Linked DNA regions of Homo sapiens. The protein of the gene in region 1 purifies or fractionates together with the protein of each later gene. This does not show direct contact. Each region holds a gene or a part of one and is shown in the gene's direction. Other genes may lie near its edges.

The links.
Region 2: the proteins of SLC24A4 (region 1) and TMOD3 purify together in Homo sapiens (affinity purification with mass spectrometry; one large-scale study listed by BioGRID and IntAct). This does not show direct contact.
Region 3: the proteins of SLC24A4 (region 1) and SPON1 fractionate together in Homo sapiens (co-fractionation; one large-scale study listed by BioGRID). This does not show direct contact.
Region 4: the proteins of SLC24A4 (region 1) and TPM4 purify together in Homo sapiens (affinity purification with mass spectrometry; one large-scale study listed by BioGRID and IntAct). This does not show direct contact.

What each region holds. Positions count from the first base shown.
Region 1 is NC_000014.9:92,321,857-92,325,964, forward strand, and holds the start of SLC24A4 (sodium/potassium/calcium exchanger 4 isoform 1 precursor), read left to right. Parts: upstream 1-1,308; 5' UTR 1,309-1,974; coding exon 1,975-2,104; intron 2,105-2,203; coding exon of another isoform or gene 2,204-2,344; intron 2,345-4,011; coding exon 4,012-4,108. UniProt on the Homo sapiens protein: Calcium, potassium:sodium antiporter that transports 1 Ca(2+) and 1 K(+) in exchange for 4 Na(+).
Region 2 is NC_000015.10:51,895,653-51,899,152, forward strand, and holds part of TMOD3 (tropomodulin-3), read left to right. Parts: intron 1-766; coding exon 767-874; intron 875-3,500. UniProt on the Homo sapiens protein: Blocks the elongation and depolymerization of the actin filaments at the pointed end. The Tmod/TM complex contributes to the formation of the short actin protofilament, which in turn defines the geometry of the membrane skeleton.
Region 3 is NC_000011.10:14,133,723-14,137,222, forward strand, and holds part of SPON1 (spondin-1 precursor), read left to right. Parts: intron 1-1,697; coding exon 1,698-1,846; intron 1,847-3,500. UniProt on the Homo sapiens protein: Cell adhesion protein that promotes the attachment of spinal cord and sensory neuron cells and the outgrowth of neurites in vitro. May contribute to the growth and guidance of axons in both the spinal cord and the PNS.
Region 4 is NC_000019.10:16,086,495-16,089,994, forward strand, and holds part of TPM4 (tropomyosin alpha-4 chain), read left to right. Parts: coding exon 1-46; intron 47-1,532; coding exon 1,533-1,603; intron 1,604-2,550; coding exon 2,551-2,626; intron 2,627-3,500. UniProt on the Homo sapiens protein: Binds to actin filaments in muscle and non-muscle cells. Plays a central role, in association with the troponin complex, in the calcium dependent regulation of vertebrate striated muscle contraction.

The sequences.
Region 1 (4,108 bases):
CTTACTCAGTCCAGAGGGAACCGTGTGGGTGGTGACTGGCTAGAGGCATTGGAGCGGGCTTGAAAAGGGAGCACTTCTCACACGTGAAGGTGCACACAAATTTCCAAGGGATCTCGTTAAAAATGTACATTCTGACTCAGTAGGTCTGGGGTGGAATCTTAAGAGTCTGTGTGTCGCATAAGCTCTTAGGCAATTCTCATGCTGCTGAGGACCACACGGTAGTGTAGTGAGCTGTGAGGGAACAACGCACATTCTGCACAACAGTGACTTTCAGGACCCTCCTTAATGGGGCATTTATCTAAGGGCCTTGCTCCCTTTTGATTTAGAGTTCCTTGAAAGCAGAGACTGGGTCTCATACATTTGTTATTGTTTTGTTCTCCGGTTGGCACAGGGCCTGCACACGGTGGGTATGTATTTATTTAATTAAAGAGTTGGCCTGTTCCAAGAAGGATTTTAACCCCTAGCGGCACTGAACAGGTGGCGATGAATTGGCCGGGAAGGAAGTCGGTCCTAGGGGTAGTCACAGACCCCCTGGGCTGGGGTCCCCTCCACCTGCCTGCACCTGTATCACCCCTCAGCTGCTGTTCTGAAATTTTCCCTCCTGCCCCATTTTTAAAGCGGTTTACACCAGAGAGCCGACCAGAAAGGAGAGATACAAAACCAAACCAGCAAGCCCTGGGAAGCGGTAGGCTTAGGAACATGGAAAGCTCAACCGTCGGTTGTGGGGCCCGCAGATCTCTCTGGTTCCCCTCTCTGCCCCGTCTCCAGCTTTTTTGCAGGTCGGTGTCGCGGCCTCGCAGATCCCCAACAGCCCCGAGAGCCCTGAAGGAGCTGGTCCCAGCGGGTCCAAGCTCGTGTTGGCTTGGTGCAAGCCTGTTTGTTAGCTCTGCACGACCAATTAATTTTCTCCTGCATCTTCCCCCCGTGGTGGGTGGCGGGGTGGGGAGGGGGTGTGTGGCGGGGCCTCGGGTCGGCTCGGGGGTCGGAGAGCCCGGACAGGAGCGACTACACTGCAGAAACCCTTTTTCTAAGAGTCCCCAGCGGTGCCATAACCTGTTTCTCTCTGCAGCAGCCTCAGAGGGTAAAGGAAGGGCTCGTTGCAGCTCCATATGGAAGAAAGGAGAGAAAAAGGGAGAAGGAAGGGGATTATATTGGTCAGTAGAGGTCCAACTACTGAAGAGAAGAGTGCACGGGGGAGTGCGCCCTACGGGACGAGTACACGTGCTGGGAAGGGCGGGGGGTGAGAGGCGGGCAGGAGGGGAGGAGTAGGGAGGCGAGAGCAGCGGGCGGGAGGCGCCACGGCCTCTCAGACGCTGGCGCCCGCAGCCGAGAAGCCAGAGAGAAAGTTCCCGGGGAGAGCTCGCCCCTGGGAGGGCCGACGTCGAGCCTGCTCGCCGCGAGGGTCTCAGGTACCGCGCGTCCAGCCAGCCTTCCCGCGGCGCGCACTCGGCCGCCCGGGCTCGGCTCGTCGGGAAGCAGGGGAACATCGCCGGCTGGCAGCCGGGGCGGCCGCCGCCAAACTTGGAGGAGGAGGATGCTGCGAGTGGGCGCGGCGGCGCGGGGCGCGGGGGCGCACTGAGTGCTCCCTACGGCGCTGCTGCCAGGGCTGTGGCCGGGCGAGCCGGCCGAAGCGGAGCGGGCAGGTAGCGGCTCTAGCGCCGGGACTGCGCCAGCCCTGCGAGCCCGGGCCGCCAGCGCCACCGTGCCGGCGTCGCCTCCTCGCCACGGAGCCATGGTGCGCGCAGCGCGCACGCGGCGCGCGGGACTCTGAGCTCCGGCCGCGTCGCGCGTCCCCACCTTCCCAAGGGGCTCCCCCGCCGACCTCGCCCTCGGGCCATGAGGCTTTGGCCCGGAGCTCCTCGCCTCTGAGTCGCGCACCGCCTGCTCCAGCCCCAGCGCCGCTCGGCCACTGATTGCACTCTGGCCGCTGAAGCTCCCCATCCTCTCCCAGAGACGGCACCCAGGCGCTCCGGGATGGCGCTCCGCGGGACCCTCCGGCCGCTCAAAGTTCGCAGGAGGCGAGAGATGCTGCCGCAGCAAGTCGGCTTCGTGTGCGCGGTGCTGGCCCTGGTGTGCTGTGCGTCCGGCCTCTTCGGCAGCTTGGGTGGGTGCTGGTACGGGTCCCCTCTTCCTGGGGAGTTGGGGGCTTTGGCTGGGGAGTCTCGGGGCGGCTGCGAGATGTTTTCCCCTCCTTCCTCATCAGGTTGGTCCCAAGGGTTCATCCAGTCCCCTCCCCGCCGGGCAGGTAGAGCGCGCCCAGAAGAGCTGATGGACGCTCTGGGCTGTGGCGCCGGTTCCCCTGAGCTACGAGCGGCCCCTGGGGGGGCTCAGGACGCGGCTGCAGGTGTGTGTTACTAAGACGAAAGCAAGAACCGCTTCCGTCCCGGGAGTGCGCCCGGAATGGGCAGCGCAACTGCGGGGTGCAGGCAGGATTCTCTTGGTCTGGGGTGGGCGAAACTGAGTGGCCCGCTTTCCTATTCTGCAGAGCCGCAGGAACCGCCACTGCGTCTCGCCCCTGCCCTGGTTCAAAGGGGTCCCCTGGGTGCCCTGAGGTGTTTGTTCTTCCCAAACCCTAAAGGCGTTGGGGCAGTCTGCCGCGGGGGGTAGCTGCCATGTTTCAGCATCGCGTCTCTCAACTCCCCTTAACTCCCACGGAGGGAGAAGGCGGGTGTGTGGAGCCTCGACCCATGCCCCCTCCTCCAAGAAGAGGGATTTGGGAGTAGCTTAGGCTATGCAAATTTCAGGTGGAGCGGGAAGAGAGAAGGAACTAACCAAAGAAGTGTGTTTAGGGGGATGTGACCCCATGTGTAACCTTCAGGAGGCATTCACTTCCCTAACTCAGGAGACATTCACTTCCCTAATCGTCTCATTTTGAGTTGGATGCTGTGAACCTTTTAATTTCATTATTTTTTTAAATGTAAAAAGACAAAAGAAATGCTGGTGATTTAAACACCAAGACATGGAAGGTAAAGCGGGTAGTACCTTCTTGAGCAGTTAGAAAGGCCGTCAACATCCAGAGACCATTTAGAGAGGTGTACACTGATAGGTAAAAATCCAGTGGAACTTGATTAAAGTTTTCAAAATAACTGCCTTTCGAAACCTAAACTTTGTGATTTGAGGATGCAGGGTTAAAAAGTGGCTCTTTGCAGTGAGACCCAGGAAGATTATTTTGAATATCTTAGTACCTGGTGCTTTGCAATTGGGCAAGTCAGTGTTTGGATTTTTTTCCCCCCTCAATTACACACCAGAAATAACAACATACCTAGAGGCTCTTAGACATCAGCATTATAGAAGAGGTATTATTACCCAGCTGAAGCAGTGCGCATCAGGAGAGGTAAATGAATACTCTGAAGGTCTTAAAGTGAGAATCATTTTTATTTGCTGGATCAGGAATTACCTTTAGGAGTTTAAGTGTGCTTGGTTGCGGGCCTCCGCAAATTCTCTCTTGCCCAGTATGGCCCCTGGACCAGCAGAATCAGCACCACCTGGGAGCTTGTTAGTGCAGAATCCCAGGTCCCACCCCAGACCTGCTGAGTCAGAATCTGAATTCTAACAAGATCCCCAGGTGATCTGTGTGCACATTCAAGTGTGAGGAGCACTGGGCCAGACCGCATCAGCCTTGCCCACCTGCTTGCTGACTTGCTATTCATTCGTGAAGTTCCTCCAGGGCAGGGGCCCTCTGAGAGTGTCCTTTACTGGAAGAACACTTAAAAGGTCACCTATCTAAACCGTTTGTTGCACCTATGAGGTGCTGAGACCACCTCAGTCTTGGCCAAGGTCAGGTCACATGCTGACCCATCTGGGACTGGAAACAGTGAACTAGATCCAGGAAACAGGCCATTGTATGTAAGCAGGTGATATTATACTTCCAATCATCCTATCAGTCCCTAAAGATGGCTCTGAATAGGCAAACAGGGCTGTTGCTGACATAGACACACAAATGTAAGGTCATTTTGGAAACGCAGCCATCACACTGACCTAATGGTATCTGTGACTTATTTTCCAATCCAGGGCACAAAACAGCTTCTGCTAGCAAACGTGTCCTGCCAGACACGTGGAGAAATAGAAAGTTGATGGCCCCAGTGAATGGGACACAGACAGCCAAGAA
Region 2 (3,500 bases), on another chromosome or scaffold:
TCTCTCCTTCAAGTAGTGTAGGGTTAATCTCTCTTAGTGCTTTGTAGCTTAAACTAAGTGACTGAGAACAGTCTGTCTGCCTCAGGAATCGTACTCATCAGAGATGGACTCCTTCATTTCTTTCCTTGTAGAAAAGTAAATCCACTTTTATTTTCATATAAAAAGAATAATGAAGGCTGGGTGCAGTGACTCATGCCTGTAATCCCAGCACTTTGGGAGGCCGAGGAGGGTGGATCACCTGAGGTCAGGAGTTCGGGACCAGCCTGACCAACATGATGAAACCCCATCTCTCCTAAAAATACAAAATTAGCTGGACCTGGTGGTGCATGCCTGTAATCTCAGCTACTTGGGAGGCTGAGGCAGGAGGGTTGCTTAAACCTGGGAGATAGAGGTTGCAGTGAGCTGAGATTGCGCCGTTGCACTCCAACCTGGGCAACAAGAGCAAAACTCTGTCTCAAAATACATAAATAAATAAAAGGAATAATGAAAGGTGAGAATAATGAGAATTTTTTTTAACCTAAATGCTAGAGAAATGGTGATATGTGCTCTGCTCTGAGTCAGTAGTTTATGCAAATGCTCCATCGTAGATAAGTCAGATAATTATGGAGGAAGCTGCATTATTTGTATTCATTTGTAGACTAATTCTTAGGTGTTTGTATAATTTCTGAATACATTTTAAAGCAAAAAAAACCATATATTTGATTAATGGAAACTAAATATAATGAAAATTGAAATGTAATGATGTTTTATGTTATTGTCTTTCAAGAATATCCCAATTCCAACCCTAAAAGATTTTGCAAAGGCTTTGGAAACCAACACACATGTGAAATGTTTCAGTCTTGCAGCCACCCGGAGCAATGACCCTGTTGCTACTGTAAGTAAGCGACTTGAGAATATCAAAATTATGACATGCCCAGGGTGTGTTACAGTGGTGATTTTTATGAACAAGATTTACCCCTTTTTTATAGTTAATGTTTTAGCTCACTATTAGGCAGTATATTACTTACCAGCTTTTTGTGTTTATTTTTTCCTGTATTTCCTTCCTATGAATTTTTTCCCCCTCCCAGCTTCCCCCTCCTTCCTATGAATTTTTTAAAACATAAATGGAATCATGTAGTATATGCTGTTCTGCAACTTGATTTTTCACTCTGCAGTTTATCTTTAAAGTTTTGTTGTATCAATACATAGGGATCTACCACATTATTTTAACATCTTCAGAGGATTCCATTTATGGATCCTTAGTGGTGGATTTTTGTTAAATGCTTTTGCTGTGTCTCTTGAGATGTTCATATGGTTTTTGTCCTTTATTCTGTCAATGTGGTGTATTGATTGACTTTTATATGTTGAACCAGCCTTTCATTCCTGAGATAAATCCCACTTGATCATGGTATAAACCTTTTGTTTCATTGGCTTTGAGAATATCACTCACTCCCTTGGGGGCTCCCCTTACCTCAGTGGACATTCCTTCTCAAAGCCCTGTACTGGTTTCTCCATATCTCTTCAACTTCTAAATATTGGAATGGCCCAGAACGTGGTCCTTCTTTTCTCAGTCTACACTGACTTTCTGGGTAATCTCAGAAATATATATATTATCTTCATATACTTGCTGATGACTCCCAGTGTTATTATCTACAGTTTGTATCTCTCTCCTGAACTCCGTATTCATGTCCAGCTACCTCCTCAGCAGCTTTACTTGGATGTCTAATGGACATCTTACATGTAAGTCCTCAAACTCCTGACTTCCATCCTGTGCCTGCTTTTCTCTGCTGTTTTCTATCTTACTAAATGCAATTTCAATCTTTCATTGCTCAGGCAAACAAAAAAAAAAAATTTTTTTTTTTTTTTTTTTTGAGACAGCGTCTCACTCTGTTGCCCCGGCTAGAGTGCAGTGGCGCAATCTCGGCTCACTGCAACCTCCGCCTCCCGGGTTCAAGCGATTCTCCTGCCTCAGCCTCCTGAGTAGCTGGGATTACAGGCATGCGCCACCACGCCTGGCTAATTTTTGTATTTATAGTAGAGATGTGGTTTCACCATATTGGCCAGGCTGGTCTCGAGCTCCTGACCTTGTGATCCGCCCACCTCAACCTCCCAAAGTGCTAGGATTACAGGCGTGAGCCACCACGCCCAGCAAAAAAAAAAAAAAAAACAAAAAACTAATGGAATCATTCTCGACATCCCTTTCTTGCAACTTAAACCTACCTTTGGCCCTATCTTCAAAATATTTCAGAATCCAACCACTTCTCACCATTTTCACAACTACCACCTTGACCCAAGCCACCATCTTTTCCCACCTGGATTATTGCAACAGCCTCCTAATTGGGTTACCTTCATCTATTTTACCTACCCCAAAGTCAGTTCTTTACATAGCACCAAGAGTGATTCTTTTAAAACTTAAGTTAAATGACCTCATTCCTATTCGGATAACCCTCTAGCAGCTTCCCATCTCATTAAGAGTAAAAATAAAAATCTTTCAGTGGCCTTATAAGGCTTCACATGAGTGGACTTCATCTCATTTACTTGCCCTTTCTTTCATTCTACTCTAGCCATACAGCCTTCTTCAGCATGCCATGTGGACTCCCAAATCAGGGCCTGTACATTTGTTCCTTCTGCCTTGAACTTTCTTCCTAAAATAATCCACTTAGCTTTGTCTTATCACTTTGACTCTTTGCTCAAATGTCACCTTCTAGTTGAGGCTTTTCCTGACCGTGCTATATAAAATACCAACCCCATTCCCACCCCCAGTATTCCCCATCTACCCTATTGTGCCTTTTTTCTTTTTACCCTCTAACATTGCACTTTGCTTACTTTTATTATCTGTGTCCCTCCCCAGCTAGAATGAACATTCTGCCAGGCAGGGACCAATGTGTTTTATCTCTGAATCTCTAGGACAGTGCTAATCAAATAATAGACCATCAGTAATATTCGAATACATGTATGGATAAGGGATTTGTTCCAGGTCACATAGCTAGTTGTTGCTAATAGAAAGGACAAGTATGTAGATACCAGCCACAGTTTTTTTAGTATCTCTACGCCCTATTGCCTTTCCTTTAACTTTAAGCTTGGTCTTACCCATATTTTCTGTAGTTTAACCTTGCTTTTGATCCCTCTAAGGGGCTGTTTTATATAAACTCATGATCATTGTTCTTTTTTCTCTCTCTTTCCTTCCCCTCCTTCCTTCCCTTCTTCTCTCTTCCTACCTCTGTCTCTTTTTCTTTCCTTCCCAGTCTCCCTCCTCTTTCTTTTTTCACTTGTAGGCTTCTGTTAATTAATCAATATGGTACTTATTAAGCACTGAGTCAAATGTCTAACACTGTACTGTATCCTATGAGAAATGAAATAGAAGCAGATTGAAGACATACCATTACTTGAGGAATTTAATATTTTATTAGCCCCTTCTTCTCAATGGCCTTTGTGCTCTTCTGGTTCTGGTTATCTGTGTTCTTTTCTGGCCTTCTGCCTTGACCATTTCTTTTGGCCCCTGCCTTGGAAATTAGTACATA
Region 3 (3,500 bases), on another chromosome or scaffold:
AGGACTCTTCACCCAGGAAATGAGTTAGAGAAACGGCTGGCAGCATCTCTATCTGTCTACTCTAGGGATATGAGAGATGAAGGATAAACATGGGGTCTGCATTTTCCCGATGTGTAGGAAATAATGAACAAGCAATTGGGCAAACCCGCATGGTGATGTCCTCTGCCTGGGGTGGGCCGTGGCTGCCCTCAGCAGGCCAGGAAGGTGCGGCCTGGCTTTACACCTATGTTCTTGATGTGGCCCTGGAGCAGAGGGCCATGGGGAAGCGATGTGAGCTGTAAACAGAACCAGGCCATGTTCAGAACCACTTTCTTTCTTTCTTTTTTTTTTTTTTCTTTTTTCAAGAGTGTTTATTAAAATAGGCAGTAATGGGGTGAAGAGTTCTGCCCACTCTGGGCCACAGGATGGGAAACTGAAAATGTTAGTTGGGTTCACCCAGTTCAAGTTTTCCTCTTTGATATGCCTGAAAATGTTATTTAACTTGAGACTTTGTTTAACCAACCAAAGAATGGCTGAGAATTGAGCCAACTGTGTGATGAACTAATTATATGTAACTTAGTCAATAATAAATGTATATGCATCTGTATTCATCACATGTAAAAAACAAATCCAGTAAGGTGCTGATACTATCAGTTCCTTCTTCCTCCAGGACTTAAATAAAATCCTCAAGTCAAGTTCTGTCTTGCTCCAGCCCAGATCTTACTCTGTTTTCCCATGCTGTTGTGTTGTGCATTAATTCCCTCCCACATCCCACTGCAGCCACCATCCCATGTGATCTTCACCAAACCACTGTGGACTGGTCACTTCCACATATCCAAACTGTCCATCACATCCTTTAAATATAGCTAACCTGCCTGCCCCTTGTACTGAAATGTACATAGAAGTCAGCTGAAATCAACCATGTTTACTTCTAAGGCTGGTCCCCACACATTTCTTTTATCTTTTGCTCCTTGCTTACCTCTCCAGCTCTCCACTCCAACTGTGCTCTCTCCAATGCATTCTTCACACTGCTGTCTGGATGATTTATCTAAAATTCAAATGCAATTATATCACTCCTCTGCCAGAACCCTTCAGTGGTTCTCAGATCCTTTCAAATGACATCCAAACTCCTGAAGCATTTAGAGCAAGGCCATTCATGAGCCAGCTTCTTCCTACCTCCCTGGCATCATCTCCTAACTTTCCCCTTGACAGTTTGTGACACAGCAATGCTGAATTAGTTATGACTCTCCAAACACACAATGTTATTTAATGTTTCTGAGTCTGGTCTATGGCTATACCACCCTGAATGCACCCAATCTTGTCTGATCTCAGAAGCTAAGCAGGGTCAAGCCTGGTTAGCACTTGGATGGGAGTCTGCCAGAACAGTCCTTTCTACTCTATTTTGCCTTACAAATATGATCAGCCTTTAACGTTCTCTCAACTATCCCCTTCTCTGAGACCTTCCTAGACAGAACGCATCTCTGGGCTGCCTCTGCGTCTTGTTCAACATCTGCTGTTGACCTGTCTGTACATTCCCAAGACCTATTTGCTTATAGGAACTCAGTCTTATCACTGAATGGCACAGGGCCTAAGACAGAATAGGTGCTTAGTCAGTGCTCTTTGAATCGATGTCCAATTACGCATCCTCCCCATCATTTAAGGGACTCGTGTTTCAGCCACAGCCATGCTGATAACTGCCTCCTGATTGGCTTTCCCAGGTCGGGCCAACCACTGGTCTGCGATCATCGGAGGATCCCACTCCAAGAATTATGTACTGTGGGAATATGGAGGATATGCCAGCGAAGGCGTCAAACAAGTTGCAGAATTGGGCTCACCCGTGAAAATGGAGGAAGAAATTCGACAACAGGTAAGACAAAAAAATCACAGAATGACCAAATAACAGAAATGCAGTCAAAGCACTCCTTAGATATCTTTCCCAGGGGCTTGAAATTTGCAGTACAATGTGGTGGAAGAAAATCTATTTGCTGAGTTTGGGGGTTTTATGTTAAGTAGAGGACAGACAGAGGCACAAATATCCATTTTGTTGTCTCAGATTGTCCCTGACTGCATTCATGTTTTCTTCAGCCTGTGCTAAATGCTGCTGCTGTGGCCATATTGTTGGGATGCCTTGTCTCTAGTCTCCTGAGAGTCAAAGCCATGAATTAAGGTTTTCTTACTGTGATCTTTGAGAGGGTCAGAGGAGTAATAGTCAAGCTGTCCAGCCAAATCCCCAAAATAAATGTTTGAGTATTGGCACGTGCTTTTTGCAACTATGTCTTGAGGTACTTGATAAATTAGTCGTTCGTTCATCATAATCATTATGGACTGAGGCATCTTCTGTGTCCTATGCTGTGTGGGCCCAGGAGCAGTCCCACTCTCTAGGCCTTCACTGATACCTCTGTGAGATAAGGGAGAAAAAGTCCATAATTCTTATCAATTCATTTGGCTGACAGTGCCATCGTCCTTCATCAAAAGCCTAATCAGGTTGACACCAGAGAGAGGCTAATGAGAGAACCTTGGAAGAAGAGCCACGTGGCTCAGTGGTGGTTTGCTGCAAGACATGGCAGTGCAGCTTTAGCCATCACTACCCACAAAAGCCTGTCCAGCCTGAGAGAGCACATGGCAGCATGTCCCACTGCCCACCAAGTGCTCTGGAGGAAGTAAGGAAAGAGCAAAGCATGCTTGGGATGTGATCATTTTACAACACAGGTCACTGAGAGGCTGTTGCCCTCCCTGTGCTCCTGTCCCACATCTCCTGAAACAATGCAGGAGGCTAAGAAAACACCAGGGACCCCATCTCACAGTCTGCATGTGCCCAGAGGCCTGAGCAGCACAGCAGGGCAAGCACAGCTGAGGCCCGCAGTGTTCCCCACCATCTGGACTCCAAGCTGCCCACAGACCCTAAATTGGAGGCAACAAAGGTCACTCTGACTCCTGCTATAAATCCCCTGAGGAATCAGTTTGGACTAGAGTCGAAAAATGCCCCAGAATGAGCTTATGTTTCTTATTAATTTGATTTGAAGTCTTTCCTCCTTTCTTGGAAAAAAAGATGTTTGACCAGATGTTTTAAGAGTGCATGCTATTCATCCAAGATGAGCTATCTAACTATGCTCTGTTTCTCTGACTCTGGCTGCCATGCCTCATAATTGGCATCACTCCTTCAGACTATGGCAAAGTCATGCAGGGCTCTATATTGGTGCTAGTCTGTCTGGCCTATCATGGGGGAACCATTGTTTGGGATCCTGGAGGTTCACATTCCCAGTTCTCAAGTATGGAATTATGCCTCCCTGATTTGTCAAGCTCCATGGTGTGGAATCTTGAAAACCTTTTGTTACAAATAGTAGTTGAAATACTAAAGTTTGCCAGTTAATTACATCAGGGTCAAGGGCATCTTCATAATAATGTCAGTCTCACTTGTTGGCTTTCTTGAGAGGTTTCTGGAAAAGAAAGAATCCTGCAGGAATCATACATAACTGGAACTATATTGTGCTGGTGAACATTATCTGACATGTCATAGCAAT
Region 4 (3,500 bases), on another chromosome or scaffold:
AGAGGCCAAGCACATTGCGGAAGAGGCTGACCGCAAATACGAGGAGGTGAGTGGGGCTGGCAGATGGCGCAGCAGCAGGAAGTGGGAGGAAATGCATCTGCTGAGATAGGGAGGACACCGGGGCCAACGAAAGGAAGCTCTCGGTTAGGTCAGCTGTCCTCCTGCGTGAACATATGTTTGTCCAGAGACAACCACTTGGCTAGGAAACTATCTCCCACGATGCCAGAAAGTGCTGCGGACGCTTGTCTAACGTAATGGGAAAACCGAATGATCAGCTCACTTGTGTCGTTAGCTGGGAGTTTTGGCACAGTTGGGCAAAAATGGAGGATTGTGGTCCCAAGCCATGGAGTTTCAGACCATGCAAGCTCAGGCCCTCCTTTGCCTCCCTCGATGGCTCGGCTCTTCCCTCCCGCCTCTTGTCTGCCTCGCTCCTCAGGCTTGAGGAAGAGAATCAGGATTTCCTCCAGGCCCCAGGATGGCTCTTTCAGTTGAAGCGCCAGCAAAAGGCCAGGCGCGGTGGCTCGTACCTGTAACCCCAGCACTTCGACCGAGGCGGGAGGATCACCTGAGGCCAGGAGTTTGAGACCAGCCTGGGCAACATAGTGAGACCCCATTTCTAAAAATAATAATAATAATAATTAGCTGGGTGTGGTGGCATGCACCTGTAGTCCCAGCTACTTGGGAGGCTGAGGCAGGAGGATCGCTTGAACCTGGGAAGTCAAGGCTGCAGTGAGCTCTGACCACGCCACTGCACTCCAGCCTTGGAGACAGAGCAAGACCCTCTGTCAAAAACATAAAAGGGCTGGGCATGGTGGCTCACGCCGGTAATCCCAGCACTTTGGGAGGCCAAGGCAGGCAGATCACCTGAGGTCAGGAGTTCATGACCAGCCTGGCCAACGTGGTGAAACCCTGTCTCTACAAAAAATACAAAAATTAGCCGGGCATGGTCGTGCATGCCTGTAAGCCCAGCTATTTGGAAGGCTGAGACAGGAGATTCACTTGAACCCAGGAGGCAGAGGTTGCAGTGAGTCAAGGTTGAGCCACTGCATTTCAGCCTGGGTGATGGAGCGAGACTCTGTCTCAAAAGAATAAAAAAATAAAAAAGAGGCCAGGTGTGGTGGCTCATGCCTATAATCCCAGCACTCTGGGAGGCCGAGGTAGGTGGATCAGGAGGTCAGGAATTCGAGACCAGCCTGGCCACTACGGTGAAACCCCATCTCGACTGAAAATACAAAAATTAGCTGGGCGTGGTGGCACGCGCCTGTAGTCCCAGCTACTTGGAAGGCTGAGGCAGGAGAATCGCTTGAACCCAGGAGGTGGAGGTTGCAGTGAGCCGAGACTGTGCCACTGCACTCCAGCCTGGGCAACAGAGGGAGACTCCGTCCCCCTGCAAAAAAAAGAAACACCAGAAAAACCCATGTTGCAGCTGGTCTAGGGGTCTGGGTGGGGCATCATTGGGGGCTGTCTGCAGTGGATGGGAGAGGACACGGCTGGTGGGGATCGGGCTCAGCTGGGCCTTTCTGTCTCTGCAGGTAGCTCGTAAGCTGGTCATCCTGGAGGGTGAGCTGGAGAGGGCAGAGGAGCGTGCGGAGGTGTCTGAACTGTGAGTGGCAGAACAGGACTGAGCGAGGCTGGCTCGATTCCTGGGGCGGAGTGGGAAGGAGCTGGCTGTGTTGGGAATTGGCTCTGACCGGGGTCTCTGCTCAAGTGGACGGGCGTCAGGGGCTCATGGCTCATCTTTTCTCTTGGCTTCTGTGACAAAGAGGTGGTGACTTGTTCTTACTGCCATGGGAAGCACTGCCCACGTGTTGACCCTTTCTGCAAAGATATGAGGAAATAGGAGTGAGACAGGAGGCAGCAGGGAAGCCCAGAAGTCCCATTTTCCCAGAGAGGATATCTCAGGGGGCTGTGCCATCTTAACAGAACACTGACCTGCTCCAGAAGGCAGGCTCCCCCGGTCAGTATGTAAATGCTTTTGCTCCTGTCAGTGTTTGGCCGTGACACATTCCTGGCGGGAAGGTGAGAAGCTTAACCAGAATCCCACAAGCAAGCACCGAAAAACAAAACACCTGTCCTCTTGGCCCCGGGTGAGGAATTCAGCCCCACAGAGCATCCGGGAGTGCTGAGAGAGATCTGGTTTCACAAATCCACTCCGGGCTTCCTTCCCGGAGTGTCCCCTGCAAACTCCCATTGCTCTCTGCCCGCCTTCTGCCCTCAGTCCCATTCTTACACCTTCCGGAGTCGGCCTCATCAATCATAGATTTCACAAGTCCTTGCAGCCTTACCCTTGGCAAAAGACCAGGAGTGTTTTCCAAGCCCTCCAAATACTCTTCGGGCGCACCTCGCCTCTGCCTGGTATGATAAGCCTTTGATAAGCCCATAGTATCACACTGCAGAAAAATCCATTAACATTTTCTCCCCACATTCCTTCTGCCCCCCACCGGGGGAGCTGTGTAGGTTTCTCCTTTGGAAAATTTATTGTTGGGGCGATTGCTATTATTGCCGGCTGTAAGGGAAGATAAGACACAAAAATCCTTTGTCTTTGTGCAGAAAATGTGGTGACCTGGAAGAAGAACTCAAGAATGTTACTAACAATCTGAAATCTCTGGAGGCTGCATCTGAAAAGGTAGGTGGTTGGCTTGAGCTGGAGGGTGGCTTGCTGGACTTTGTTCTTTTCTTCTCCCGAGGGATGCAGGAGCCTGTCAGGTTATGGGGAATCTGCCCTTTATTTAACAGTAGCGTTGGTGCCTGGCAGCCAGGGTTTTTCCCCTACAGAAAGAGCTGGATTTCTCCTGCACACTCTTGAGTCCTCTTCCATGGGGTCTGAGCACCATCTTTGATCTCCATCTCAGGAGGATAGAGATAGAACATGAGGCTCTTCTTAGCGAGATCTGAGCATAGTTGTATAAATAAATACAGAGCCTGCCTCTCACCTGATTCCCCTGGTTCCTCCAGAAATACCATCTCAAAGGTATAGCAATGATCAGAGGTGGAATTGGGCTTTTTAGTTTGAAACAGCACCCAAAGCAGTTGCTACGTGGCAGCTACGTCGGGAACAAAGGACACACTTCCACGGCCGAACCCCACTGAATTTCCCAGCCTCTTCCTCATTCTTGCTCCTGCTTTTGCAGTTTCACAGACATTCTTTGTTCTCCCATCACCTCCACCCCCCACTTTTTTTTTTTTTTTTTTGAGACAGAGCTTCGCTCTGTTGCCCAGGCTGGAATTCAGTGGCATGATCATAGTTCATTGCAGCCTTGAACTCCCAGGCTCAAGCGATCCTCCCACCTCAGCCACCACCTGCTATTCACTCAACTGGGTGTGGCTTTCCTTTTGCTTGATAAACCCCTATTCAGCCTTTTTTTTTCTTTTCTTTTTTTTTGAGACAGGGTCTCACTCTGTCACCCAGGCTGGAGTGAAGTGGCGTGATCTCAGCTTACTGCAGCCTTCGACTCCCAAGTTCAAGCAATTCTCCCACCTCAGCCTCCCGATTACACGCT